Homo sapiens: one gene and its partners. Changing the gene in region 4 together with the main gene of any one other region gives a genetic interaction. Each region holds a gene or a part of one and is shown on either strand. Other genes may lie near its edges. The genes, in order: CIT, NUDC, RIT1, ERH, FIP1L1, GTF2E1 and KRAS.

The links.
Region 1: changes in ERH (region 4) and CIT together harm fitness more than expected from each alone (negative genetic interaction), as found in Homo sapiens cells (one large-scale study listed by BioGRID).
Region 2: changes in ERH (region 4) and NUDC together harm fitness more than expected from each alone (negative genetic interaction), as found in Homo sapiens cells (one large-scale study listed by BioGRID).
Region 3: changes in ERH (region 4) and RIT1 together harm fitness more than expected from each alone (negative genetic interaction), as found in Homo sapiens cells (one large-scale study listed by BioGRID).
Region 5: changes in ERH (region 4) and FIP1L1 together harm fitness more than expected from each alone (negative genetic interaction), as found in Homo sapiens cells (one large-scale study listed by BioGRID).
Region 6: changes in ERH (region 4) and GTF2E1 together harm fitness less than expected from each alone (positive genetic interaction), as found in Homo sapiens cells (one large-scale study listed by BioGRID).
Region 7: changes in ERH (region 4) and KRAS are lethal when combined (synthetic lethality), as found in Homo sapiens cells (3 studies listed by BioGRID, with this or other methods).

Annotation. Positions count from the first base shown.
Region 1 is NC_000012.12:119,709,225-119,713,324, forward strand, and holds part of CIT (citron Rho-interacting kinase), read right to left. Parts: intron 4,071-4,100; coding exon 3,979-4,070; intron 3,472-3,978; coding exon 3,367-3,471; intron 3,124-3,366; coding exon 2,954-3,123; intron 1,870-2,953; coding exon of another isoform or gene 1,825-1,869; intron 1,397-1,824; coding exon 1,316-1,396; intron 1,163-1,315; coding exon 1,027-1,162; intron 1-1,026. UniProt on the Homo sapiens protein: Plays a role in cytokinesis. Required for KIF14 localization to the central spindle and midbody. Putative RHO/RAC effector that binds to the GTP-bound forms of RHO and RAC1. It probably binds p21 with a tighter specificity in vivo.
Region 2 is NC_000001.11:26,920,201-26,924,770, reverse strand, and holds the start of NUDC (nuclear migration protein nudC), read right to left. Parts: upstream 3,029-4,570; 5' UTR 2,923-3,028; coding exon 2,842-2,922; intron 683-2,841; coding exon 605-682; intron 1-604. UniProt on the Homo sapiens protein: Plays a role in neurogenesis and neuronal migration. Necessary for correct formation of mitotic spindles and chromosome separation during mitosis. Necessary for cytokinesis and cell proliferation.
Region 3 is NC_000001.11:155,908,550-155,912,564, forward strand, and holds the start of RIT1 (GTP-binding protein Rit1), read right to left. Parts: upstream 2,801-4,015; 5' UTR 2,694-2,800; intron 2,370-2,693; exon of another isoform or gene 2,337-2,369; coding exon of another isoform or gene 2,329-2,336; intron 2,256-2,328; coding exon of another isoform or gene 2,213-2,255; coding exon 2,107-2,212; intron 1,958-2,106; coding exon 1,901-1,957; intron 1-1,900.
Region 4 is NC_000014.9:69,391,475-69,395,574, forward strand, and holds part of ERH (enhancer of rudimentary homolog), read right to left. Parts: intron 3,439-4,100; coding exon 3,351-3,438; intron 1-3,350. UniProt on the Homo sapiens protein: May have a role in the cell cycle.
Region 5 is NC_000004.12:53,383,869-53,387,968, forward strand, and holds part of FIP1L1 (pre-mRNA 3'-end-processing factor FIP1), read left to right. Parts: coding exon 1-8; intron 9-4,100.
Region 6 is NC_000003.12:120,766,534-120,770,633, reverse strand, and holds part of GTF2E1 (general transcription factor IIE subunit 1), read right to left. Parts: intron 1-4,100.
Region 7 is NC_000012.12:25,219,530-25,223,629, forward strand, and holds part of KRAS (GTPase KRas), read right to left. Parts: intron 346-4,100; exon of another isoform or gene 1-345. UniProt on the Homo sapiens protein: Ras proteins bind GDP/GTP and possess intrinsic GTPase activity. Plays an important role in the regulation of cell proliferation.

The DNA of each region.
Region 1 (4,100 bases), on a different chromosome or scaffold from region 4:
TTTCAAAACCCATAGAATGTATACCACCAAGAAAGAACTCTATAATGTAAACTGTAGACTTGGGGTGACAATGATGTGTCACTGTCAATGTGTCAATGTAGGTTCACTGACTCTAACGAACGTATCACTCTGGTGGGGGATGTTGGTAGTGGGGGAGGCTATGCATATATGAGAACGGGGGTATATGGGAACTCTCTGTACCTTTCAATTTTGCTGTGAATCTAAAACTGCTCTAAAGAATAAAATAAGGAAGAGAGGAAGAGACGGAGGAAAAAGAGCTGAGATTAAGAAAGGCCAGTTCTTGTCCATAGTATGTCAGTCCCCGGATCCAGCCATGCCTGAAACAAGACCTAACTGTTGTTGTTTTGAACACTGAATCGATATATTACTCTTTTCCCCTTTAAAAATAATGTCACTAACACAGACAGAGAGAAATAAACTGTACCCTGGTTATGTGACAGAATGTCTTCAATCCTTAGGTTGATATACTGAAGAACTTGGCGTCATACCTGCAACTAACTCTCAAATGGTTCAGGAAAGAGAGAGAGAGAGAGAGAGAGAGAGTGTGTGTGTGTGTGTGTGTGTGTGTGTGTGTGTGTGTGTGTGTGTGTGTTAAGAAGACAGAGAAAAAAATTATGACAAAATATTAGCAAATGGTGACTTGAGAGAGATCACAGAGTTAACAGAGCAAGCAAGCTCTCAGAAGGTCAGGGCCCACGGTGGTTTCGTTGCAATCAGGACAAAGGGTTTGGCTTTAGATAGTCTTCGAGGCTTAGCACTCTTCACTTGGCCTAACAGTGGGATGTTCTTTGGGAATGTCAGACTGTGCTAAACTGGATACTGGAAGGGAACTGAATCTGGACAGAGGGGGTCCATTAGCTGAGGCTTGGGCATCTATGGGGACACAGAGATAAGAGCTACAACGGCTCCTCTCTACTATTTTGTGTTTTACGAGCATGAAACGTGGCTTCAACATATTGGCTCCCTTGAAAGTAAAGAAAAAACACCATGTCCTTGGCCTCACACCTGCTATCATGAGTAGCTTCTCCAGGTCCTTGATAATATAAATTTGGAAGACTGCTCCAATTCCTGGGACATGGGTTAGGGAGTTTTTCAAGACATTCAGGGCGTAGAGCCCTTCCTCGGTGCCCACCAACACCACCTGCAAGGGCAGAAGTCCGAAGGCAGAACATAAGCACGGTCACGTCACCAGAACAATCTCTAGTAAGAGCAACAAGGCCTCCACAGCCCTTTCTTTCTTGATGGGGTGTGGCTGTAACCAGACACCAGCTGGCCGTGCCCATGCAAGCATTACCTGGTCACTGAAGGGCAGCGTGCAGTTCATGTCTAGACGGTCATCACCTTCCAGTTTCAGCAGGGAGTTTCCAAGCAGTTTCTTTTCATAGGTGAAAGAAAAGAAAAACAGAAGACATCGTGAGGCTGATCTGTTTATGACCAAACCATCCAGAGAAACCAAGAGAAGGTTAAGGCCAAGTTATTCCTGGAAATGCTCAGAAACGCACATATGCTCTTAGCTCAGCCCGTATTTTGATCTGAGCTCCAAATGCAAAATGCGAGTGCTATTGGTATCTCTGGGGCAGCTGTTAATTAGCATCTGAGTTATAATTTGGCTGGGATGCAGAAATAAGGGAGGGTAGTAGACATGGAAAGCTATTCTGTAATAAGAAATAAGCTGAAGCTAAGGAGATTTCACCTGCGCAGGGTTAATAAGACACATGAAAGACTCCTTCCCCCATAAGGCTGCAGCAGAAGTGCAAAGGCGCCGTGTTAGCAGCGAGCCAGCACGCCTCTGCATCTCTTTACCTGAACCCAGGCAGGCAGAAGCTCGTAAGAAACACAGTCGCGGGCCTATTGTACACATATTAACAAGGATTTCAGTAAAAGCTCACGTGTGAAACGACCAACAAGTCATCCAAACAGGTCTAACCACTGAGTAAAGCCCTTTTCAGGAGGCTTGTGGTTAAGAATCTGCCAATTGCTAACACATAAAGTGTTTATTAGGAGTGAAGAGTCTGAAAAGAGCTGTTTGGTCTTCGCTGGAGCAAACGTCAATGAGCAATGAGCACTGTTTGTATCCTGGAACATTTTAGGTGGGGTGATGCCAATCACAGCACACCTACGTTTCTAACAGCTTAAGGATAAGTAGGACTCCAAACCTGCCTACGGAAGAGCAAATACTGCAAAAACAACTGAGATGCTTATGAAAAGCCTTCCTGGAGGGGACACAGCTGCCGGCAGCCTATTGTGCTGCTTCGTGGCCAAAGTGCTTCTAACTCAAGCCTTCAAACCAGACAAACTCATTTGAGTAAACAGGAGAGAGGATTTCCTTATAAGTACATTTGCTGCTGCATCACCACAACCAAGGTCTACAATGCCACCAGAGTAGGCTACTGATGCCGATTCCCCCATTCTTTTTCCTTTGCTTTTACAGTCCATGCCTCGCTCTGTTGCCCAGGCTGGAGTACAGTGGCACAATCGTAGCTCACTGCAGCCTCAAACTCCTGGGCAATCCGCCGGCCTCAGCCTCCCTACTAGCTGGAACTACAGGTGCATGTCACCACACCTGGCTAACTTTCTTTCTTTCTCTTTTTTTAAGAGATGGGATCTTGCTATCTTGCCCAGTCTGGTTTCAAACTCCTGGGCTCAAGTGATCCTCCTGCCTTGGCCTCCTGGGTCACTGGGACCACAGGCATGAGCCACCGCATCCCTGATTCCCACATTCTAAATGGATCATGATGCCACACAAGCTACCTTGGTGCTTGTGCCTTCATCACCACCAGACTCCTGGCCATGACACAGTCTAGAGCCATCAGCCCTCAGAGAGAGAGCCTGAGGGGAATCAAAATGGCCAATGGGATTCTCGTCGTTAACACCAGTTACCAAGTCAGCCCCCTTTACAAAGACAACCTCCAGGGCCCGCTTTCATACTCACAGCATCAGCTTCTGCTTTTTCCCTAGAAACTCTCCCACCTGCGACAACTGATTCTAAGGCGGTGACCCAGCGCTGTTTGTCAGGGAAGCTGGGAGCTAGCAAGTAGAGGGTTCTCCCGGGCCAGCAGGTGGTGTGCGGGTGAGATTCCATCTTCAGTATGTATGGGACATCTAGGAGATTTCAGAGAGCACAGGATTGGGTGTGGATTTCCCCCGTTCCCACTGGGAGGGACGGGCCTGAGAGATCAAAGATGCCCACCAAACCACGCAAATCCCAGTTACCGCCAAGGCGGGGAGCGGAGGAAGATGGGCCTCCTTTGCAGAGCCAATCTTCCCTGTACCACCCCTTCTGTCCCTGCTGATTGGCCAAGCCCGGCCCACCTCCAGGGCGGGGCTCCTCCGGCTCCTCCTCACCTGCTTTGGCTGTATTTGCGAGTTCGGAAGCACCAACGGCACCATGAATAGATACATCCCCGTCGGGAAGGCACAGCTCAAATTCTTCCACCGGCCTCTGTCCAGCTTGGTGCAAAGAGGAAGGGCAGAAAGAAAAACAAAAGAACAGGAACAAGAACAAGGGGAGAAGAGAGAGCGAGAGAGACAGCAAGGGAGAGAGAGACAGGGTACGTGTGTAAAGAGAGGCGCACGAGAACAAGGAAGGGACAGAGGTGTGCAGAGAAGGCAGAGAGGGAAGATAAAAAAAAATAAAGTGTGTCAGATGAGTAGCACAGTCAAATTTCTGATGACGATGCGGATTTATGGGTTAGTTGACTGAGGCAGAAGTTCTCGGAAGGTGTATTAGCAGGTGGAATCTTCAGGGCAGCGCCCTGCGGGTTCTTCAGGGGGGAGACCTATAGATGTGAGTATCGCACCAATAACCTTTAGAGAAGTCATTTGGTTTGTAAGTTTCAAAAATGGAAAAGCGTAGAAGGCTTGCAAGGCAGTCCAAAAAACAAAGCCTTCGCGCCAGCACTGGGGAGACCTGGGTTAGCCACGTGCAATGACCTTCCCCCTGAATTATTAATTTACCTTCTCTGGCTTCATTGTCATAAATGAGGACTTTTGATCCCTCCAGGACAATGTACTTCCTGTCCCAGCCTTGCTGTCCTCGTTTGTTATTCCTGGGGAAAGAAAGATGGAAAAGAAAAATG
Region 2 (4,570 bases), on a different chromosome or scaffold from region 4:
GACCAGCCTGGCCAATATGATGAAACCTCGTCTCTATCAAAATACAAAAATTAGCCAGGTGTGGTGGCGGGCGCCTGTAATCCCACTTACTCAGGAGGCTGAGGCAGGAGAATTGCTTGAACCCAGGAGGCGAAAGTTGCAGTGAGCCGACATTGCGCCACTGCGCTTCAGCTTGGGTGACAAAGCAAGACTCTGTCTCAGAAAATAAATAAATAAATAAAACCTCCTCATTGGAAAAGGAACTGAGAGGCACTGTGTCGGGGCAGAGGACAGGTTTACAACAGACTGGTTTCAACCCTGGTTCTCCCACAGCTCAGCTCAAGACTTTGGATAAGGTGCAAAATTCTCTTGAGCCAATTTCCTCAATGGGGATAGTTAACACCTGCCCCTCTTGTAGAACTGCAAAAGTCATGGGAAATAAGGTAGATAGAGGGCTGAGCAAGGAGTGGAGCTTGAAGAAATGACAGCTTCCTTCCCTTCCCCAATTCCTCACCTTTGGCATTTCGCTTCTGCTGAAAGTTACTATTATGCCAAAGAAAGGCCAGGTGAGCTTTTCTTCTGAAGAGACAGAGCCGCCCAAAGGACAGTGGTTTCCAACACTTACCTTCTCTGCCATCCCTTCTTCTCCTCCAATGAAAAAGTCTGTTTTGCGTCGAAGGAAGCTGAAGAAGGTGTTCACAAGCTGAAAGAGGGGGAGAAGATTAAAGTAGTAGAGCTGCATTTGGGAGCCCTTCAACTGCACACAAGTCAACTTGTTTTGTCTAGGAGGGAACTTGGGACTTGACTATTTTTCCTCTGAGCTTCCCAACTGAGGAGATTATCTCCCCAGCAGGTTCTCTTAGTCACTTCCACCATGAAGCAGATTTCTCATATCCTGTGTGTGTGTGCGCCTTTCACTTTCCTTGTGATGCTAGAAGCAGCCTAAGCGTATGGAACACTCCTCTGCATCCAGGGCATGAAAAGCCTGGGCCCAGCTTTCCTCTCCAGAAAGTAAAAAGCCCATCAAGACACTGGCTCACACCTATAATCCCAGTACTTCAGGAGGCTCAGGTGGGCGGGTCACTTGAGGTCAGGAGTTCAAGACCAGCCTGGCCAACATGGTGAAACCCCGTCTCTACTAAAAACACAAAAATTAGCTAGATTACAGGTGGTGGGCACCTGTAATCCCAGCTACTTGGGAGGCTGAGGCAGAGAATCACTTGAACCCGGGAAGCAGAGGTTGCAGTGAGCCAAGATCGTGCCACCGCACTCCAGCCTGGGTGAGAGACTCTTGTCTAAACAAAAAAAAAGACACTGGCTAAGTTACCGGGTCAAAGCAAGAAGGAGGAGAGCAAATGAAGCCACTTCAAAGGAGGATAAGATGGATTAATTCTGGCTGGAGTACAAGTGTAGCCAACGGTTTGAGTATCAGATGGACATATATTACCTTTTGACTTTGCAGAAGTTTCTTAACTCTGTACAACAGGAATAAGATGCAGTACCTATTTCTAGGGACCTGGTGAGGATCATGAGGTCAAGGAGGTGAGGCCTTTAGCAATGTATGGCACAGAGCAAGAGACCCACTGGCAGAGGGTAAACACCTTACAAATAGGAACCATGAACCATGGCTTAGTCTGTCTGCCACCTGCAATGCTGGGCACCAGATATGGCTAAAGGTACATAATCAGTAAAATTCTTGCTGAATGAAACAATCTAGTGGTGACTCAAGGTCAGCACACACAAACCCTTTATTTGCCCAAGAGTGGGTCTAAATCTGATTAAATCTGATGCTAGAACATATCTCAATGGTTTCCGTTCTTGCTTCTAGACAGTTTTTCAATTTGCTCAAAAATGAACTCGCTCCCAAATCCAGTTTTGTGCGAACAGTTTAGAGGAATGGAGACAGGAAGGCTTTTCACACTTGCAAATGAGAAACACTCTCCCCACCACAAAGGGCTTAGAAGTCCTTGGTCACCAGACACCTAGGTTACATAGGAATAGAAAGTTCAATGGAAACCTACCTCCAGTAAGACACAATCAGCCATGGACTCTGGGAAGCACACTGACCTGTCTAGGTGAGAACCATGTTGCATGATCTAGGCAAATCCTTGCCACTTCTCTGGCTCTGAGAATGAGAGTTCTGATCCTGACAGACTTTTCTACCGTTAACTTTGTGTTTGTTCCAAAAAAACCAACTCCAGAATCTGTAACAGTTGGCCCTTATTGTCGAGTGTGGGACACACATCAATCACACGACAAATACTTGTTGAATGAAAAAGCCTTATTACTGAGAACTTACGGTTCTTAACTACTCTCTGGAAACCGGTATTCGCAGCTGTCTCACAGATAAGGAAACTCAGGCTTGGAGAGATGTAAAGGTTCCAAGTTGGTAGGTGGTGGAAACTAATCGTGAACACAGGCCTCCTATTCCCCCATTCAAGGCCTAACAAGACCACGTGCTAACATCAGCCCGCTCCCCTACCACACACATTCGACGGCTCGCCCCAAGCCTTGGTGGATCCAAATCACGATATTTGCGACGGTTCTTACTAAGGGATGCTCCTTGGAAGCCGCCATCAAAGTGGAAACGGGGGTGGGGGCATATGTGAAACTAAAGGGGGATCCTAAGCTCAGGGATGCGATAATTTGCTACTACTGAGGGGCGCCGGGGGCCCGGGACTGATGCGAACCGGGTGAGACCTGCTGGCGGGTGGCCAGGCCGGAAGCTGGGCGCAGTGAGAATGTAGGGGCATCCCAGAAGCCCGCGAGCCGCTGGGGTGGGTCTCAGCCCTCGAAGGCAGAGAAGGGCGGAAGGAGCGTGGCCAAGGCCGCCGGGTGGGCCGACGCCGCGCGGGCCGTTACCTCCTGCACGCCGCCCTCGTGCTGCTGAGCCATGGCCAGCAACATGCCGTCGAACCGCTCCTCCTCCTGCTCTCCGCCCATCGCGCCGGCTCCGATCCACGTCCCGGAGCTCTGCACTCTAGTCCCGCGCTCTCTACGCTCCTGCGGGTCGCGCCGGGCCCAACGACTCTAGTCGTCCGCCTTCCGCAGCGGAGCCGGAAACACGCACGCGCGCGGCTGCCCAGGCCCGCCTCCACCTCCTCTCTTCCCGCCTTCCTCCCGGTTTGCGGCCATTGACCGTGCGGCAAGCAACCCGCTTCGCCGACCATTGGTCGACATTCGGAGCCAATCAACAAGCGCGTCCACGAAGCGGTAGGCGGAGCCGTGGGCCCGAGAGTTTGGCATGAGTTGCTATGGTCACCCGATGCCGTGGAGACTTCTAGAAAGCCCTGGACTCAAATCTGGCAGGGTTGGAAGTTAAAAAGGGACAAGTTTTGCCCCTCTCCCTTGCTAGCGACCCCCCCAGCTTGTAGAGCAGTGAAGCTGAAAGTAGCCTTACTCATCTCTTCCAATCCTAGAAGGGACTTACCACAGGACAGCCTCCTCCTCATCGACCTCACTGCGTACTTGACTAGGGCCAGCTTCATGGGAGTACAAATTGCAGTCGCACAGCACCCAGGCTTAGAAAGGCTCCACGCTTGATTTCATGGCCTTCTGTTATAGTCTTGAAATTCTTAATAATTTTGGAATAAGGAGACCCACATTTTCATTTTGCACTGGGCCCAGGAAATTATGACAGGTGCTGAAATTGACCTTCACTTCTGTTAATGCGGGGACAGGACCCAGCCATCCAAGCTAATCCCTCCACTTGTGCAATGAATCTCATCATCTTAGTCTTTTCAGGAACTCTATCCCTGTTAATTATCCCTTTTTTTAGCTTATGCATCACAAATATCTTTCTTCTTCCCTTCAATTTACAAACACGCTTTAATATCTTTTTGTTTGTTTTTAGAGATGGGGTTCTTGCATTGTCACCCAAGCTGGAGTGCAGTGGCACCATCTTGGCTTACGGCAGCCTTGAACTCCTGGACTCAAGCCATCTTCCCCACTTCAGCCTCCAGAGTAGCTGGGACTACAGGCTCACATCACCACGCCCTGCTGTTTTTTTTTTTTTGTTTTTTGTTTTTTGTTTTTTGGTAGAGATGGAGTCTGTGTTGCCCAGGCTAAGTCTCAAACCCTGGTCTCAAGCACTCCTCCTGCCTCAGCCTCTCAAAGTGCTGGGATTACAGGTGTGAGCCACCATGCCCAGCCCTGTTTTTATATTATTATTCCATGGCCCCACTTTCTTCTGCTGCTACCTCTCCAATTTTCAGCTCTCATTTGCAGCAAACTTGTTTGCTTGTTTTTCTACTCCCTCACCTCCCATCTCTCTACAGTATATTCTAGTCTATCTATTCTTCTTTTTTTTTTTAGACCAAGTCTCACTCTGTTGCCCAGGCTGGAGTGCAGTGACACGATCTCAGCTCACTGCAACCTCTGCCTCCCAGGTTTAAGTGATTCTCAGCCTCCCAAGTAGCTGGGATTACAGGCACCACTACGCCTAACTAATTTTTTTTTGTATTTTTAGTAGAGGGGTTTTCACCATGTTGGCCAGGCTCGTTTCAAACTCCTGACCTCAAGTGATCCACCTGCCTCGGCCTCGCAACGCGCTAGGATTACAGGCATGAGCCACTGCGCCCGGCCTGTTCTA
Region 3 (4,015 bases), on a different chromosome or scaffold from region 4:
AATCTCTGAACAATTTTTTTTTTTTTTTTTGAGACAAAAGCTTGCTCTTATCCCCCAGGCTGGAGTGTGATGGCACTATCTCGGCTCACTGCAACCTCCGCCTCCCAGGTTCAAGCAATTCTCCTGCCTCAGCCCCCGCAGTAGCTGGGATTACAGGCACCCAGCACCACGCCCGGCTAGTTTTGGTATTTTTAGTAGAGATGGGGTTTCACCATGTTGGCCAGGCTGGTCTCGAACTCCTGACCTCAGGTGCTCCACCCGCCTCGACCTCTCAAAGTGCTGGGATTACAGGCATGAGCCACCGCGCCTGGCCTGAATCTCTGAACAGTGTTCTAAATTTGATATAGTACATGAAAAAGTCAAGACTTTTTCTATTTTTCCCATCCCTGGAATCATGTGCTCTATGAAATGACCATATCAAAGCTGGGCCACCACAAAACATTATTGGCTTTGCGGGAAACAGAGCAGCAGAGGCCTGACCCAATGGAAATCCTTCCTAGAGAACTAGGATCATGGCAAAGAGTGTCACATACTGAAAATAATAAGGCCCGGCGCAGTGGTCACGCCTGTAATCCCAGCACTTTGGGAGTCCGAGGTGGGCAGATCACGAGGTCAGGAGATTGAGACCATCCTGGCTAACACGGTGAAATCCCATCTCTACTAAAAATACAAAAAAAAATTAGCCGGGCTTGGTGGCGGGCGCCTGTAGTCCCAGATACTCGGGAGGCTGAGGCAGGAGAATGGCATGAACCTGGGAGGTGGAGCTTGTAGTGAGCCGAGATTGTGCCACCGCACTCCAGCCCGGGCAACAGGGTGAGACACCGTCTCCAAAAAAAAAAACAAAAAAAGAAAATAACAGTACAGCTGACTTTCTGTGCCCTCTCCCATTCCCACATCCATTTTTCTTTCATATTAGGATATAAACCCTTAGAATCAAACCTGCTTCCTTATGGTTTAGGAATGACAGTAATGTTCTTAGTCTTTGTAGAGATTAGCAATTAAAAAATAAAAAAGTCAAAGCAAACAAAATGACTTTTTTACTCTATTAGCGTTCTGCAACAAGAGTTAAGGACCATAAAAGACATCGGAGGGCTAGGCACAGTGGCTCACGCCTGTAATCCCAGTACTTTTCGAGGCTGAGGTGGATGGATTACTTGAGGTCAGGAGTTTGAGACCAGCCTGGCCAACATAGTGAAATCCCATCTCTACTAAAAATACAAAAATTAGCCGGGTGTGGTGGCAGATGCCTGTAATCCCAGCTACTCAGGAGGCTGAGGCAGGAGAATTGCTTGAACCCGGGAGGCGGAGGTTACAGTGACCGGAGATCGCACCATTGCCCTCCAGCCTGGGAGACAGTGCGAGACTCCATCTCAAAAAAAAAAAAAAAACAACAGACAGACATGGGAGAAGACATTACTACGTAATGAACTTAAGGTATAAGGAAGTAAACCAAGAGCTCCAAGTGCAAGATGTCCAGGCTTGGCATGTCTGGGTTGTAAGAGTTCAGCAGCCTGGCTCTACTTGTTTCTCTGCTTCCTTTTGTGGAAGTTCAAACCAGCTGACTCACAGTTACAGAGCGAGTCTCAAGTCATACCCTTAGAGAAGTGACAGCAAGAAAAGGCTTCGTTAAGTGGCCTGTATACAACCATAAAAAAATACAACAAAGAGAGTTGTCCCATTAATGTTCAGTAAGAGACAAAGACTAAAGATGGCTTATGACATAAAGTCTGAAAAAAAAAGAAATATTCAGTTGCTTACCAACTGCTGATACCCTTGTTTCTAAATAAATCTGAATTAGACTCCAAAAAAGCCTCAAAATATAAATAGTTAGAAACTACTGATATTCATTAAGATATTTTTATGGGGTATATTTGGAAACATAAGTGATGATCTGGCTTACCAATGGTGGGATCATGATCTTCTGGGAATCGGTGGCTGATGAACTGCATGGTCATGGCTTCAAAAGAAGAAATAAAAGTCAAATCCTCACAAAGGTGACCCACAGAGAGAATTTTAAGTATTAACATTGCAAGATAGCAAGTATCCCATCTGGTCATTTAAGTACTTTTCATCCATGCTTCCTGTCAAATGGAAAATGTTACCTACCACTCTTCCCTACACCACCAGCACCCAGCATCACTAGTTTGTACTCCCGTGAGAGCCCAGCGGGGCTGCTACAGCAGCTACCAACTGGGCGAGTTCCAGAATCCATTGTCCTCTTGGGGCCTTCCTCGGTTGCCCCGAGGAAAAGCCACCTAGAAAAGGAGGAGGAAATGCTTAATCCAGGATGGAGACACCACGGCGACAGCCCTCAAGCCAGTGCCTTACCTTTCCATACATATTCTGGCCTGTCCCTCTTACTCTGGCCTGTCCCTCTTGCTCACCACTGCACCCTTTCGGGTGGCCCTAAGAAACCCCCCCATCTTCACCCTCCCTCCTAGACAGTTCAGTCACATGACACATCACAGGTTTTACTTTTTCCAAAGAGAAAAATAAAAAGATACAAATAAATTTACGTCTCGGCACAGTAGGGACAAGGAGAAAGTTTTGGGAAGAAAGGGATGCGGCCCCTTAGGCCGCAGGGGTTCTCTCACGTCTGCGGTACCCAGAGGTTCCGCCCCCTCCCCATTCTCCTCCGAACCCCCTCCCCACCCCCAGCTGCTGCTCCGCCGCCAGACTCCCCACCCCTCTACCTCACAAGCCGACGCCCTGCTGCTCCTACTGGTCAGTGGGGACTGGAACACCACAGCCGGTCGGGTCACGCACTTCGTCTTCCTTCACTCGCGGAGGCTCCGGCACTGACCTGTGACCCCTCCCGCAACCGAGTAAGATGGCGCCACCGGCGCCCGAGTCGCGGAAGGAGGGGCGGGGCCACTCAGTGACGCCCACAGCCTGCCCCGCCCTCTTCCCGCCCCTCCCAGGTCCCTAAAACCCAGTTCCGGGACCCACCGCTGAAGGTCCTCTGGTCACCTACCCAACCTAGGGTGTATGCACTCACAGACAAGGGTATTTAATCACGAGTAGAAAGTAAATTATTTACACAAAAGGGAAGGGAGTACGTGATAAGAGACATGCAGGGACACTTAAATTAACAACTTACCGAGGGTTGTTTGCTGCTTGTGGGAAAAAAAAAAACCCAAAACTAATTTGACCCAATGTAATGAGAGGAAGGGAGGACAGGGGCACCCCCCAAATCCTCCTAAAACACAGGATTTCAGTCAAGTCTACCGGGGATGACTACTCATAGGAGAAAAATGACTTTCCTAAAGGAGCGGCCACAATGACTTTTGCTATTGAAACCTAAATTCATTCTCAGAAACCAGATGTTCACAACACTCCCTAATCAGAGTTCTGTATGTATTTTAAACACGTATAAGACACACAAAAACTTGTTTTAAATAAATGTACCACACTCTGGCAGGAAAGAGAGCTCTGAGTTAACAGAGGCCTTGAGTTAAATACAGAACTGAAGCGCAGCCACTATAACCATATTCCCCTCTATTTACGTAGCACAGGTGCTAGAAGAAACTGACACGAAAATTGTTCTCATGCAGCTCTGCCTACCACTGTTCTTTTTAAATGTCTTTCTGGGCCGGGCGGGCGCGGTGGCTCACACCTGTAATCCCAGCACTCTGGGAGGCCGAGGCAGGTGAGTCATGAGGTCAAGAAATAAGAGACCATCCTGGCCAACATGTAAAACCGTCTCTACTAAAAATACAAAAGAATTAGCTGGGTGTGGTGGCATGCGCCTATAAGTCCCAGCTACTCGGGAGGCTGAGGCAGGAGAATCACTTGAACCTGGGAGGTGGAGGTTGCAGTTAGCTGGCTGAGAGGGTGCCACTGCACTCCAGCCTGGCAACAGAGCAAAACTCCGTCTCAAAATTTAAGTCTTTCTGGCCAGGAGTGCTGGCTCACGCCTGTAATCCCAGGACTTTGGGAGGCTGAAGTGGGCTGATCACTTGAGGATCAGGAGTTCAAGACCAGCCTGGCCAAAATGGTGACTCCCTGTCTCTAC
Region 4 (4,100 bases):
TCTCTACTAAAAATACAAAAAAAGGTAGCCAGGCATGGTGGCGCAGGCCTGTAATCCCAGCTACTTGGGTGGCTGAGGCAGGAGAATCGCTTGAACCAGGGAGGCAGAGGTTGCAGTGAGCTGAGATTACGTCACAGCATTCCAGCCTGGGTGACAGAGTAAGACTCTGTCTCGCACGCCAAAAAAAAAAAAAAAAAAAAAAAAAAAGCATATTGCTAGGTTAAAGCAGCCAGTCTGAAAAGGCTTCATACTCCGTAACTCTAACATGACATTCCAGAAAAGGCAAAACTACAGATATGGTAAAAAGATCAGGGGTTTGGGGGTGGTGGCAGGGAAGGAGGTATAGGTGGAGCAATGGGGATTTCTGGTAGTGAAACTACTCTGTATGATACAGTAAAGGTAGATACACGTAATTATACATGTCAAAACCCACAGAATGTTCAACACATACAGTAAACCCTAACATAAACTGCGAACTTTAGTTAATAATAATCTATGAATATTAATTCACCAATCCCAACAAGTGTAATCAGACTAATAGAAGATGCACTAATAGGGGAAACTAAGAAGGGGAGGAAAGAAGGCGTATGCTGGAGCTCTGTACTTTCCAAACAATTTTCCCATAAGCCTAAAACTGCTCTAAAAACATGGTCTTAAATAAAGTCTTTAACTGCTCTTAAAAAAAAGGGGGGAGGAAAAAAATGCTCTGATCTACAGGGGAATATTTACTACAAGAAAAAAAAAAAAAGAATAATAAAATTACCATTTGGCAACCACATCATGTGAGAACTTATTTAATAATTATTTTAACATTTTTTTGTTTTAGTTTTTTAAATGGGAAATAAATCACCACTTTTAATTTTTAGAAAAAGAGCTACCAAGTCATGAAAAGACATGGGGGAAACATAATAAATGCACATTGCTAAGTAAAAAAAGCCAGTTAAGAAAAAGCCACACACGATAATGATTCCAACTATATGACATTCTGGAAAAGACAAAACTATGGAGACAGTAAAAAGACCAATGGTTCCCAGAGGTTGAGGGTGGGGTAGGAGGGGATGAATAGGTAGAGCACAAGAAATGTTTAGGGCAGGGCAGTGAAACCATTCTGTGTGATGCTGTAATGGCGGACACATGACACTGCGCATTTGGGAAAATCCACAGTAATGTAGGACATAAGAATGAAACCTAGTATGAACTATGAACTTTACTTAATGACAATGTATCAGTAATGAATACTGGTTCACCACTGTTACAAATGCACCACACCAGTGAAATTCATTAATAATAGGGGAAATTGTGTAGGGGTGAAGAAAGAGAGTAATATCGGAAAAACTGTAGTTTCTGTTCAATTTTTCTAGAACCCTGAAACTGCCCTGAGAAATAAGAGTATTGCAGAATCAAAGACCAAACATGATAATGTAGGTTAGGTAACAATTTGCTAAGAGAGCCTGCATACAAAATCTACATCAATAGCAGGCAGAAATGTCAGCAGAGAAATGGATCTGTAAAGAGATGAAGAAAAAAATGCCATGTTCTTCTTTAAGAATTAGAGTAGATGGCCTGGAGTGGTGGCTCACGCCTGTAATCCCAGCACTTTGGGAAGCCGAGGTGGGTGGATCACTTGAGGTCAGGAGTTCGGGACCAGCCTGGCCAACGTGGCGAAACCCTGTCTTTACTAAAAATACAAAAATTAGCTGGGCGTGGTGGCACACACCTGTAGTCCCAGCTACTGAGGAGACTGAGGAAGGAGAATCATTTGAACCAAGAAGGCAGAAGTTGCAGTGAGCTGAGATGCACCACTGCACTCCAGCCTGGGCGACAGAGTGAGACTCTGTCTCAAAAAACAAAAAGAAACAAAGACACCTGCACTCATACGTTTACGGCAGTACTATACACAACAGCAAAGTCATGGAATCAACTACGTATCCATCAATGGATGACTAGACAAAGGAAATGTGGTGTATGAGAATGCATGCACACACATCCCATGGAATACTACTCAGCTATTAAAAAAAGAATAAAACCATGTCTTTGCAGCAACATGGATGGAATTGGAGGTCATTATCTCAAGTGAAGTAACTCAGAAAGTCAAACATTTAATGTTCTCATTTATTAGTGGAGGCTAAATGATGTGTGCACATGGACAGACAGAGTGGAATAACTGACACTGGAGACTACAAAAGGTGGGAGAATGGTGAGGGATGAAAAATCACTACTGCGTACAATGTACACCAGGTGATGGCTACAATAAAAGCCCAGACTTGGTTGGCGCGGTGGCTCATGCTTGTAATCCCAGAACTTTGGGAGGCTAAGGCAGGAGAACTGCCTGAGGCTAGAAGTCTGAGACCAACATGTGCAACACAGTGACCCCATCTCTATAAAAAAACCAAAAAATTAGCCAGGTGTGGCGGCAGGTGCCTCTAGTCCCAGCTATTTGGGAGGCTGAGGCAGGAGGACTGCTTGAGCCCAGGAAACTGAGACTGCAATAAGCCATTATCACCACTGTACCCCAGCCTGGGTGACAGAGCAAGACCCCGTGTCTTAAGGAAAAAAAAAAAAAGGCCCAGACTTTACTACTATGCCATATATCTATATAAGAAGACTACACTTGTATCCCTTAAATCTATTAAAACAACCTATTAAAAACAGACAGACACACAAGCCTATAGTGTTTGAGCTTAACCAGAATATATAAGGGATACCTGTAAAATATTTCCATACTGTAACAAAATAACATGTGACAAATAAGAAGAGAATATTTATAAAACAACAAGCAGCTCTGGAAAGTCACTCATTATATACATTAGTTTAAAAAAAAAAAACACCTAATACTTGTAGCAAGGAGGATACTATATACATAATTAATGTTTAAAATGTTCAACCGGCCAAGGCGGATTACTTGAGGTCAGGAGCTCGAGACCAGCCTGGCCAACATGGTGAAACCCCATCTCTACTAAATACACAAAAAATTATCTGGGTGTGGTGGCCCATGCCTGTAGTCCCAGCTACTTGGGAGGCTGAGGCACAAGAGAATCACTTGAACCTGGGGGGCGGAGGTTGCGTAAGCCGAGATCGCATTACTGCACTCCAGTCTGGGTGATAGAGCGAGACTCTGTCTCAAATAATACATAAATAAACAAACAAATAAATAAAATGTTCAATAATTATGGTCCATCCTAAATATCTGCTTTCCCTCCTAAAATTAGCAATTCAATAAATTTGGAGGGTTGGAAGTGATAAAGGCAGGGCCTGGGGTGGATGGACTATTAAAAAAAAAAAATTTGGAGGGGAAAAACCCAGTTCCTAAATGAGACATTTTTCTACCCCTTGATTAGTGTTAAACTCACCTTCCATGCATTCATTCACAGATTCGTAGTCAGCATAAGTTCTGCCTTCTGGCCTCTTGGTAGGCTGTACCAGCAAAATGGTGTGAGACTGCAGGGGAAAACATGATTTCAATATAAGTTTCTATTTGAGAAATTCATAGTATGATAAAAAAAAATCCCCATTTGTAATGCAATAATGATTGCTAGTTATTAAAATGTAATTAGAGAGGCCAGGCATGGCATCCCATGCCTATAATCCTCATCCTCTGGGAGGCTGAGAGGGGGAAAATCACTTGAGGCCAGAAGCTTGAGACCAACCTGGGCAACATAGCAAGACCCTGTCTCTACAAAAAAATAAAATTTGCCGGGTGCATGCCTGTAGTCCCAGCACTTTGGAAGTCTAAGGCAGGAGGATTCCTTGAGCCCAGGAGGCTGAGACTGCAGTGTGCCATGATCACACCATTGCATCGGAGAGTGAGGCCCTATCTCTTAAAAGAAAAAAAAAAGTCATTAGGATACTTTTCCCACAAAAATATTGATGTCTTAGTCTAAGTATAGTATCTAGCTGGATTCACAACTCTGCTGTACGGTCTCCCTAAGTCTCCCAGTCCTACCGTACTTACTGCCTACAAGTAATCAGTATAAGCTACCTTGCCCTCCTTTTCCTTTTCTATCTTTTCTTCCCAACTAAATTATAAACCTGCTTAGGTTTTCTGTCTCCAGTGGTCACTTTCCATCTTTAATGCTCTTAAGTCACTAATAAAAACTCAG
Region 5 (4,100 bases), on a different chromosome or scaffold from region 4:
CAGTATGGGTAAGTTATTTTTTAGTAAGTAACAATTGTGTAAATGCTATATAGTAAGGAGAGTGTGCCTATATCAAACTCTCAGTGGTTGAGTCCATTGTTTTTACATTTTTCTATTTTAACATAAAAGAACTTGTTAAAGTTTCATCATGAATATACTTCTTTGCTAAAATACAGTTAATTGATTAGGCGAAGGTACATAGAAGCAGCAGTTTTTGATGCTGAATTTAAAGTGTTTTTATAAAAGAATTGAGTGCTAGGCCAGGCATAGAGGTTCATGCCTGTAATCCCAGGACTTTGGGAGGCCGAGGCGGGTGAATCACCTGAGGTCAGGAGTTCAAGACCAGCCTGACCAGCATGGTGAAACCTTATCTCTACTAAAAATACAATAATTAGCCAGGCATGGTGGTGGGCACCTGTAATCCCAGCTACTCCAGAGACTAAGGCAGGAGAATCACTTGAACCTGGGAGGTGGAGGTTGCGGTGAACCCAGATCGAGCCACTGTACTCCAGCCTGGGTAACAGAGTGAGACTCTGTCTCGAGAAAAAGAAAAAAAAAAAGTACTATAAATTCTTTGATTAGAATTAGAAATCCTTAAATTGTAATTTGTATCTGTACTTATTATTATTTCACTTTATTATCCAGACCTGAGTTTAGGTTTTTAATTTTTTTGCCTAATAAAAACAATATCAAAAGTATTTCTTTTTGTTCTTAATAGTGTTTTCAGGTTTCTAATTCTCCCTTAGGCCTTTTAGGCCAATGTTTGTCTCCAATTTTGTATTCTATAAACTGGACCAAGTAAATGGACTGTCATTGACTCATTGAGCGCATAAAGAATCTTACAGAAAGATTGGAAGGGAAATACATTGAAGTACGAATTGTGATTTAGTTACGATAGGAGAATAAGAGTCAATGTGTTTTGTTTTTCAAATTGGCTGTATAATGTGGTTATTATAGCTTATGCATTGGAAACATAAAATACATTAATTTCACTATAGTTCATTAAGCAACCTCATCTGGAATCAACCAGTATATACAAAAATATTGTTAAATATTTTATTAGTAGAGTCATTTGTTTTCAGAAGTCATTTCAGGAAGCTTAAAGCCAATTCAGTTATTGTCATAGTCAGTTTTGTATTATAATAATGACTACCCATGTAATTTTAAAATCCTAGCACCTTTTTAGGGAACAGAGTAAAGAGGCTGATTTTTCATGTTAGGGGTGGATATTCTAAATGTGCTCCTCATTCTCATTTGGGAAAGTAAATAATTACTTAATGAGAAAGTTGGGCTTATACTGTAGTACTAGTAGGCCTTTACTATCTGCATGATGCAAAAGGAACACATAAAATTGTAATAATTGCATGTTCATTAAATGTTATGTAAAATTATTTGTATTTGCAAGTTATAGAACAACTTGAAGCAAATGACAATTTTTTTGGATTATGGATGGGACCTTTTTTTGGTAGAAATTGCACTCAAATATTAAATATACGTGGACTTCCATAGTACCTTACTAAACTTTATTTCTTATAGCAATTTTCAGTTTTATGCATTGTAATTATGTTTATACATATTTATTACCTTTACACACTTCAGATTTCTATAGAGTAGAAACCATTGAATTCAAAACTCTTCAAAAAAACAAGAAACTGTGATTTATGGAGTTTTCTATTCCTCACATTGCCTTAAATACAGTTAAGTGTGCAGTAAATGGTTATTGACTAAATAAACTGAATGTTATTTAGTTACAGTTGTCTCTGAGGGTTTTTCCCCTTAGACATTTGATTATGAAAATTTTCAAATGCTCACAAAAGTTGAAGGAATTGACATGTGAATGCTCATTTACCCATCACCTAGATTATACAATCTACATTTTGCTTTGTTTGCTTGAACTCATATCCCTCTATGCGTTTACCCATTTATCAGTTGATTTATTTTTTATTCATTTTATGCATTTCGAAAGTAAAGTACAGGCATTTGTGAAGAGTGTAAAGTTGTTTAACCTCTATATTTCAAGGTATATCCCTTGAAAACAAAGTCAGTGAGAAAATGAAATTTGATAAACATTTACTTATGCACAGCGTTTTCAGAAGCAAATTTAAAGAACAAACTGTGTCCAAGGACTGAATTGATTTATTGTAAATTGTTAGGAAATACAAAATAGCATTTTTTTTTTTTTTTTGCGTAACATACCTTTGTTACAAGTTCATTTTATATGTAAGTAAGGTATGAAGAAAAGCAACTCTTAAAGTAGAAATAATTTATCTTGGAAAGTAGTTTGTTACCTATCTCTGTGAGATTGATCCATTTATGTACTCAATAAATAATTTTTAAAGACATAATTTATCTGGCACTGTGTTAAGTAGCAAAGATAATGTGCCTTTATCAAACCATCTGTGATCATTCCATTATTATTATTGTTTTTACATTTACCATGCTACAAAAGAACCCTTGGTAAAATCACCATGAAATTTCATGGAGTTAACAAATTAGATAAAGTTACATGAAAGCAGCAATTTTTTATCTGTGAATGTATTAATTGATGAGAATACAGGAAGTTATTATTTTCCAGAGGTAGTGAGGATGCCAGACATGTGAGTAAATATTTTCAGTGCAACATAAGTGCTAGAATAGAAACATGTACAAAGTGATTCGAAAGGTTTGAGAGGAGAGTTGCTAAAAGCCTACAGGTGTTGAAGAGAAGATCCCAGAGGTAACATTTGAACTTGTTTGAATAATTTTTGAGATGGGAGACAGTGGTTTTTAGGTGGAGGACACTGCCTAACAATAAATATATTAGATGCGTGCCTTGGAGGAAGTACATGGCTGGAGGATAAGGTAGATGAAAAGAGATGGTTGAAATCACTTATGGAAGGAGTTAGGATGCTTTTGCTATGTCTTTGTAGACCTTGCAAGCTTGTCCAATGCACCTTATTTTGTTGCTGTTGTTGTTCTGTTTTGCTTTGTTTTAGTCTTTTAGCTGCCCAAAGCCATGGTTTTTAGTTTCTGTCTCCAGTGATAAGTGGAAAAGAGGGGTGATAAAGGGGCTTTACTGGCCTAACCAGAAACAGAAACTAAGGACTCATGACTGTATTCTCTCCCTTAGACACCCCTAATTAGGTTTTTAGACAGGTCATATCATTTGAAAAGATAACTCTAGCATCAGTAGTTGAGATGGGTTAGATAGAGAGACATTGACTAATAGATGTGAAGTAGTTGTCCAGGTGAGATGATAATCTAGACTAAGGCAGCAGTAGTAGAGAGATGAATGGGAAAATAGTACATTTGAGTATTAGAGAAACAGAAATATAGTCAGGCATGTGGTATACACCTGTAGTCCCATGGACTTGGGAGGCTGAGGTAGGAGGATTGCTTGAGCCTTGGAGTTTCAGGCCAGCCTGGGCAATATAGTAAGATCCTGTCTCAAAGAATAAATAGAAACAAATAACATGGGTAACTGGTTGGTTGTGGATGGAGGAGGAGATAAAGGGCTCAGTGACTTAAAGATTTCTAGAGCAGTTAATTGGGTACAGGTGGGTGCTACTGCTCCCACCTCCCACAAAACAGATTCATTTGACATGTTTATTTTGGAGTTCCTATAGAAAGTCCAAGTATAGGATCTAGCATTTAGAGTGGTCTGAGACTTCATAGGGATCTATTGGACATTATATCAAATTTGCCTCTGCAATTTTTCATACCACTAAGCTTCTCTACACAGGCTTCTCTACAAAGGCTTGTGGCTTAAAAAAGAAAAATGATGTTTTAAAAGGCAGAATGGGGAATAGAAAGTAGCTAGGTGGAAAGCGAAGAAGCTCATTTATTGAACACTTGTGGCTAAGCCTTTTATAAAAATACTGTTTTATTCTATACGGTCCTGTAAGAGAACAGTTTAGAGAAAATCCTTGATTTTTGTACATTTGTAGAAAAATCATGTACATCATATGTAGATACCGCTAAGTCACTTTTTCTGAATTTGGATTGTTAAAATGTAAACATCGTGAAGGCAGGAACCGTAATTGTCCAGCTCCTCATACTTTTTCCTCAGCCTAGAACCATACTTGACATGGTTTGGTGCTCAGTAAGCATTACATGAATTA
Region 6 (4,100 bases), on a different chromosome or scaffold from region 4:
AAATATACACAAAGGTTGAAAGAATTTCACAGTGAACAGCCATGTGACCACCATTTAGATTCTACAATTAGCATTTTGCTATTCATCACATATCTATCCATCTATCATTTTTGATGTATTCAAAGTAATTTCATCCCTAACTTCAGCATAGTTTTTAATCACAATATTTCTAATATGTATTTATTTTAACTTAAAGCCAAATTCTTTACAGCTTACCACCACAACTTGTACCCTTTCCTGGCAGCTTTAGTCTTTTTTGTTTTCACATTACACATTTGGGCCTACGTTATGGGGAAAGCCAAATAAATACCTAAAACCAAGAGTTTCTAGTCATCCTGAACATTGTCACAGGCTATTTTTTAAAATTTATTAACCATTTGTATCTAATCAATTCAATCTATTATGCTAAAACTCACACTCTTAAACATTACTTAACAGTCTACACCACTAGCCACACCTGGATTTCCAGTTTGGTTCTTATTCCCAAAGACAGGAATATGCATCCTTCCTTTCTGACTCAACTTACTTGAAAGATTAAAAGGGAACATGTAAGTACTTAGTGTCTGGCAAATAGTTAAGTACTCAAACATTTAGCTATAAAAGGCCCCATGTATGATTGATACATAAAGAACAAACAACCAAGTGATCTCTACTTCAACATAACACTAGATCCTACTGATACATTACCAGTATAATAATTTTCTTTACTGCCCCTCACACATAGCCAATAGCATGTAAATTATTTGTTCAAATACCCTAAAATACATCTTCTTATTGTCTAAATGCCACCTAATCTACATCTATCCCAAATAAGTGAGAAAGAGAGAGAAATGCAGCCCTTCACAGCTAGGAGGTGGCTCAGCACTCACAGCTAGACTGTGGCATTTTTCTGTCAAACAAGATCTCACAGATCACTAACATCAGACTATGATGGAAGTGAGGCAAACCCAAGCCACTGTGGAATTGCGTCTGAGAACAGACAAAAGCAAGGACTCCATGCAAACCACAAAAAATCCCATCTTGCACAAGTGACTGCTGCTTCTTTACCATTTAGTTTTAGCGTCACTCTGTTCTTGTCACCTCCTAGATAAGATTTATGAAGATACCCAATCATAGAATTATCCCCACTTCTTCACAGCATCCAATCCAAAGGAAACCTTCATCACTTCCCTGAATCCTCCCCAAAATTACCCAACAAAAGCCCACATTCTCTAAGTCTGTCCAACATCATCTTACCGACATTTCATGGTTTCCCCATGGTATGTGGCTTCCCTTGCTGCAGAAAGCATCAATAAACCTAACTTTGTTTACTACAGGTGCGTACCTGATAGCTTTTGACTAATGGTCACGAACATAAAGATTATAACTTAATCAACTGGACAAGAATACTATTATACCAAAGTAAAGAGAGGAAGAACTAGCTTTTTTTTTTTTTTTAGGTAAAAGATATCAAATTGCTTTAAATATAAAAATGAATATGTAAAAAGCCAACTAATTACAAATGCTAACAATTCAGCTCAAGAGAGGGGTTTAGACTACAAATTTAGATATGAGAATCAACAACCTATAGGTGGTAACTGAAGCCATATAGTAGATAGAAGCATCCGAAGAGATTAAGGAGAGTGAGAAGAAGCAGTTAAGGCATAAACTCAAGGAATGAGGAATCCTTGAGAAAGAGAAATGGTGCAACCAGAGTGACAGGATGGTGTTTCAAGGAAATGTATGGTCCTAATATTAAGAGGCCAACAAGAGTTGAAAACTAGCTTTTATATTTGGTAACAAAGGGTAAGAAGCAACCTTGGCTAGAAAGGTTTTAGGTAGAATGTTATCTTATATTATTCTCCAACTGTTCCAAGCTGTCTCAGCCTCTTCTCTTCAACAGAAGCAAGGAATATAATCATGTGGGGGCTTAAAAATAAACCACATAAAGTAGGGTTGAATATAGCTCTCGAATACCTGCTGAATTAAAAAACACACCAATGTGAGACTGGGACTTAAATTGACTGTTGAAAAATAAGCACCTACAGAGACTGTCAATGAGAACTAAGAATAGTTTGGAAGACAAGTTATCTAGTTCTGTAGTTTTCAAAATGTTTTTAAAGAAAGGAATCTCATTTCTCAAATGGAAAGGTGATTAATATATAAACATAAAAGCAAATGCTCTGGGGTAAAGTATAGAAACACAGCTAAGACAAAGGTTAATACTCCAACCCTCTCATTATCTGTTTTCAAAGCATCACAAACCGGCCTCCTCAATGTCTCCCATCAGGCACACTCTGCTGCAGAGCCTTTGCACTGCTGTGCCCTCTACCCAGATGCCTTCCCTCCAGAAAATCACATGGCTCATCTCCAAACTTACTTCAGTTCTTTACTCAGAAGCCACCAGTAAGGCCTTCTGTAGCCAACATTATCTAAAATTTCAACTGTCTTGTCCACCCAAACAATCGTATCCTCTTTCATTTTCTTTTCCCTTAGCATTATCATTATCCAACATGTTTTATTATTTATCTAATTTATCATTAAAAAGTCATGTTATACCCGAATTTTAAAAAAATGTCCTCCCAAATACCCCATTTCTCATTTTAAGACAATATGTACTCCAAACTTCAGCTTTAAGTAAACAAATCAACATGCTTGTCAGTGTAGCTCATCCTCATAAAACAGCAGTGCTTTTATTTGGGGAAAAGAGAGAAAGAGAACAACACTAATATCATTATTTCACAGAAGGACAATCTCAGAATGACAGTCCTTTAACTCGAGTAATTTATTTTCATGAAAAAGAATAGGGGGAAAAATAAAGTATATAGTCATAAGGCACCTAAATTCTAATCTCATCCAAACTTAACAGGAGTTACTTACAGAAGGGCTGATTTTGCAGGTATGAAAACAGCAGCTTTAACATTATTACTAAGAACTGTGAAGGGTCTGAGATTTTACCCTACTTGTAAGCTAACAAGTTATTCTGCCAGTTTCATGGATACTGGCAGAAGACACAAGACCCCAGGTCAGAGACAAAGAACTTCACTACTCAAGGAAATAGCAGTAGCCAGTGTCAGTATTTAAGCCAGTTCCCCATGCCCCAATTTCCATGGGGTGCGATAGAAGGGCCAGGTAACAATTACACATGCAATGGGTTGTGTTACAGGAAAGAGAGCCTGAGCTTAAAAGGAACTCAAATATTTTATAATGGGCATAAGCATGCCCATTCTTTGCACTGGAGGGTGGCATTATCCTTACTTACTATAAACTCTATGTAAACATGCTCTGGAAGGAGACACTTTTTATACTGGACCATAAGCAAACCTGCTCTTTGCTCTGAAGAGAAATACTATCTCTGTCTTGCAAGGCTGCTCGTTATATAAACATCCTTGAAAATGATAGTCCAGGAAAAAAAGCAGTCAGTCTGTATCTCTGCTTGCCAAGACATGCATAACATGTGAGAGACCCATGGAGAATAGTCTCCCAATAAATACCACATCTAGCAAATATTACAAAAGGAAAAGCTAGCCTGACATCTCTGAGCCCTGTGTTTATCACAAAAACATTAGTTATAAATGAGAAGCCTGTCAAAGCCAAATGTAGAATTTCTTATTTTTCTTCTGGGACCCTAAAAAATGCAAGAAAAGTAAGAAATTTGACATTTTACAGAAAATGACTTAAGACCAGTTTAATATACCAGCAGCATTTTTTATACATTTCACTACGCATTGTAAAAATGCAAATCAGTTTTCCTGAAATCAGAAGGGGCAAGTGGCAAGGGGCAGGAGGACACGGAAACCCAGCACATACTATGTAGCAAGCAGGCACCCACGCTACTGAGAGAGTGGTGGTGGCATACACAGACAGAACCAGTCAGCAAGAAGCTTTAGTAGGGAAGAAAGATGTCTGGAGATAAAACAATCAGGGATCAGTGCAAAAAATAAAGTACATAAATGTTTTGGAGTTCAAAGAAGGAATGTGACTTCTAGCTGAGGACACTAGGAAAAGCTTATTGAGAAGGTAAACCTTTTTGAGAGACAGTTTAGAAGATAAAAGATGAAGGAGAAGATGAAGGGGTAAGGGAACAGGACATTCTAGATCATCATAAGAGAAGTAGGGTG
Region 7 (4,100 bases), on a different chromosome or scaffold from region 4:
TCTGCAAATTCTTGCAAAACTCTGTCAAGGAAGCAACACATCAAATACCCTAACTATATACAAATGCAAGACTACCAGCCTTTTGGTGGGGAAGGGCATGGAGGAACAAGATGTATTCTAAAACCCAACTGTGCATCCCTCACTTTCTCAAGAAACCTTGCCACCCACAGCCTATCTCATGTACTATTGAAATGCAGAAAAACCACTACTTGGGAGACTACCATGGTGCACAGCAAGTGCACAGTAACTGTTCCGTCAATTTTTAACTCATAAAAAGCTATAGTTCAAAATATTGATCTCATGTACACAAACTCAACTACTATTAAACAGAGACATAGCACATAAGGAGGTTGTTTTGCAAAGCATTCTTTAACGGGGTTCTTCTAACAATTAATTTAAATATCTAGAAATTAACAACAAAACCAGGAAATGAATCACTCAACATTTTTAGGTTCGTAAAACTAATTTTCACATTATATTTAAATTGAGACCCCCAGAGAGCAGAAAAGCCGAATGAGGAGTAACAGATACCCCGAAAACTCTGCTTCTGTTATTCACCTTACTGAACCCTCCCACTTTTGATTTTAGCAGACTGGAAAACACACAATTCTCATGGTGTCAATGTTTCAATTTTGACAGCTTTTGCCAACATGGCCATGCACTGTCCAAAGGGACCAGGAAAATCTGTCAACAACCCAGATAAATGTGAACTAGGTAACAGTCCTTATACACTAGGAACATAGGGACTACACAATGTACTAGCAGAAAATAATTCTATTTGCCTTTCAGATATGGACTGAACTGAGTGTAAAGAATATGTAACGCATTATATTCTAGCCAAGTAATTAGCTTTTTAAAATTATAAGTTATTAAGTTGGTAAAAATATATACCCTGCAATTCTTATCTTAAAAAGTACAGCTGGGCACAGTGGCTCACGCCTGTAATCCCAGCACTTTGGGAGGCCGAGACGGGCAGATCACGAGGTCAAGAGATTGAGACCATATTGGCCAACATGGTGAAACCCCGTCTCTACTAAAAATACAAAAATTAGCTGGGCGTGGTGGTGTGCACCCATAGTCCCAGCTACTCAGGAGGCTGAGGCAGGAAAATCGCTTGAATCCGGGAAGCGGAGGTTGCAGTGAGCCAGGATCGCGCCACTGCACTCCAGCCTGGCAACAGTGAGACCGTCTCAAAAAAAAAAAAAATACTAGAGACCAGGCACAGTGACTCACGTCTGTAATCCCAGCACACTGGGAGGCTCAGATGGGAGGATCACTTGATGCCAGGAGTTCAAGACCAGCCTGGCCAACATGGCGAAACCCTGTCTCTACTAAAAATACAAAAATCAGTCAGGTGTGGTGGTGCGTGCCTGTAGTCCCAGCTGCTCGGGAGGCTGAGGCACAAGAATTGCTTGAACCCAGGAGGAGGAGGTTGCAATCAGCCAAGATCCCACCACTGCACTCCAGCCTGGGTGACAGAGGGAGACTCTGCCTCAAAAAAAAAAAAAAAAAAAAAAAAGAGTACTAGGGTAAAATTTCTATTTCCTTTCCATGAACTATGTTAAGTTTTACTTTAAGATTATTAAAGTTAGCCTGTAAAATACAAAAGTTTAACCTAACTTCTAGTAGCTAATCAAACACTAAAGTTACCCAGAGAATTAGGAATCAGCATATTACAGCCAATGGACCAAATGCAGCCACAGCCTTTTTTTTTTTTTTTTGAGACAGAGTCTCGCTCGGTCGTCCAGGCTGGTGTGCACTGGCTTGATCTGGGCTCACTACAGCCTCTGCCTCTCAGGTTCAAGCAATTCTACTGCCTCAGCCCCTTGAGTAGCCAGGATAACAGGCACCCGCCACCACGCCTGGCTAAGTTTTGTATTTTTAGTAGAGACGGGGTTTCAACCACGTTGGCCAGGCTGGCCTCGAACTCCTGACCTCAGGTGGTGTGCCCACCTCGGCTTCCCACCTCATTTCTGGGATTACAGGCATGAGCCACAGCATGCGGCCAGCCTATTTTTATACTATGCACAAGCTAACAACGATTTTTGCATTTTAAAGGGTCATAATTAAAAAAAAATGCAACAGATACCACTTGTGGCCCTCAAAGCCTAAAACATTTACTATCTTGGCCCTTTACAGAAAATATTTGCCAGCCTCTGATTTACATGGATGAGAACTTCTAAATGAATGTTTTGTTCCTTTAACCGGAATATAATTCTTTTTGGGTGTTTACGTGTTTTAGGCTCATGATCAAGACCCCAAAAGTTAGGGCATAAAACAACTTGCCGATAAAATACAACAAGGATATGCACACTAATTTTGTTTAAAAAACAAATAAGGGCCAGGCGCGGTGGCTCATGCCTGTAATCCCAGCACTTTGGGAGGCCGAGGCAGGTGGATCACGAGGTCAAGAGATCGAGACCATCCTGGCTAACACAGTGAAACCCGTCTCTACTAAAAATACAAAAATTTAGCAAGGCATGGTGGCGGGTGCCTGTAGTCCCAGCTACTTGGGAGGCTGAGGCAGAAGAATGGTGTGAACCCGGGAGGCGGAGCCTGCAGTGAGCCAAGATCCCACCACTGTACTCCAGCCTGGGCGACAAAGCAAGACTCCGTCTCAAAAAAAAAAAACAAGAAAGAAAGAAAAATAAATAAATAAATAAATAAATAAATAAGCTGAATAACAGATGAGTAACAAAATACTCTGCAGAAAGGAGGACTTGACATTTTCACCAGTAACTGGAGATGTAAAATTTATTAAAATTCCCATATTTCATTTTATAATCTCTACAGTTACTCGGAATAGCTCTTTAAAGTCTTCCAGAAGCATGCAAATATCAAATTAATTTCAACGGAGGAAGATTAATAAGACTTTTGAAAGGCAAATTAATTTCTAGGCAAATCAACAAGTCCATTTAATAATAAAAGGAAATCAAAGAACAGAAATTAAATATCTAATTTATAGTTTAGCAACATAAATTACATAATAACATCAGTGAAACAGGATGTAAAAGAAAGGTTGAGTGCTCTGTTAAGAAGTACAAGTATTCTTTCATACTGTATCCCTCCATTTTTAATTAGATGATCCACATAAAAATGTCTACAAATCAAATTTGTTTATCTACTTACATATTATATACCTTCAAAAAAACAAATCAAACAAAAAAACCCAAGGCCACAAAACTGTATAAAACCTAAAAATCTCTTATAAAAGGAAGCCAGATAGTTTTCTGATCAAATATGAATGCTGTGTTATATTAAAGTATTAAGGTCAAATAGCAAGAATCAATTAGTACTTCTGAGGTAGTAATCATACAACCACCAAAAAGGAGACACAGCTATTTTAGGATATTATCAAATGAGAAGTGGACAGCAACAAAGTGGGACTAACAAGACTCTTTTTATGTCCTCTACTGCTTTTCTACTCAAAGTATGGTCCAAGTACCAAGAAAAATACCACCTAGGAGTTTGTTAGAAATGCAGACTCGGTCCCCACCTAAACCTTCTGAATTAGAATCTGGATTTTAATAAGCCCAGCTGATTTGTATGCATAAGAAAATATAAGAAGCACTTCTTTACTGCAACCCCTTAAAACATTATGCAAAGTCTCTTAAATTTTTTCTTTTCTTTGTGAAATGTAAGCTAAAATGTTCAGTGGTATAAAAAGCATCTTTTAAAAGTTGTAAGTAAAGCAAATATAAAACAACAATGGTAGAATCTAGGTAGTATATTTGCAAATGTTTTAAATAAAACTCAATTTTGTATTTGAAAATGTTTCATAAGAAAATGTTGGAAGAAAAAATAATAAATATTAGAATCATGTTTTCTCAGTACCTTCTCTCCTAAGAAAAGTCAAGGAGACTGTAAAGACAGTAAAAAGAAAAACAAAAACCAAGCCTCTTCCTGGTCTTTGGAACCTGGAAATGGATTTATGTGAAATCTTAATTCCTCTAAAGTAAAGTGATATATGATATACACCAAGTTTAACCTATAAATCAGGTTTTAGTAAAATTGCCAGATAAATCTGTACAATGGTCAAACTAGAGAAATTCAGTTTTTAATCCTCCCAAAATGACTTGAAGTAGAATTTACTGTTTCTT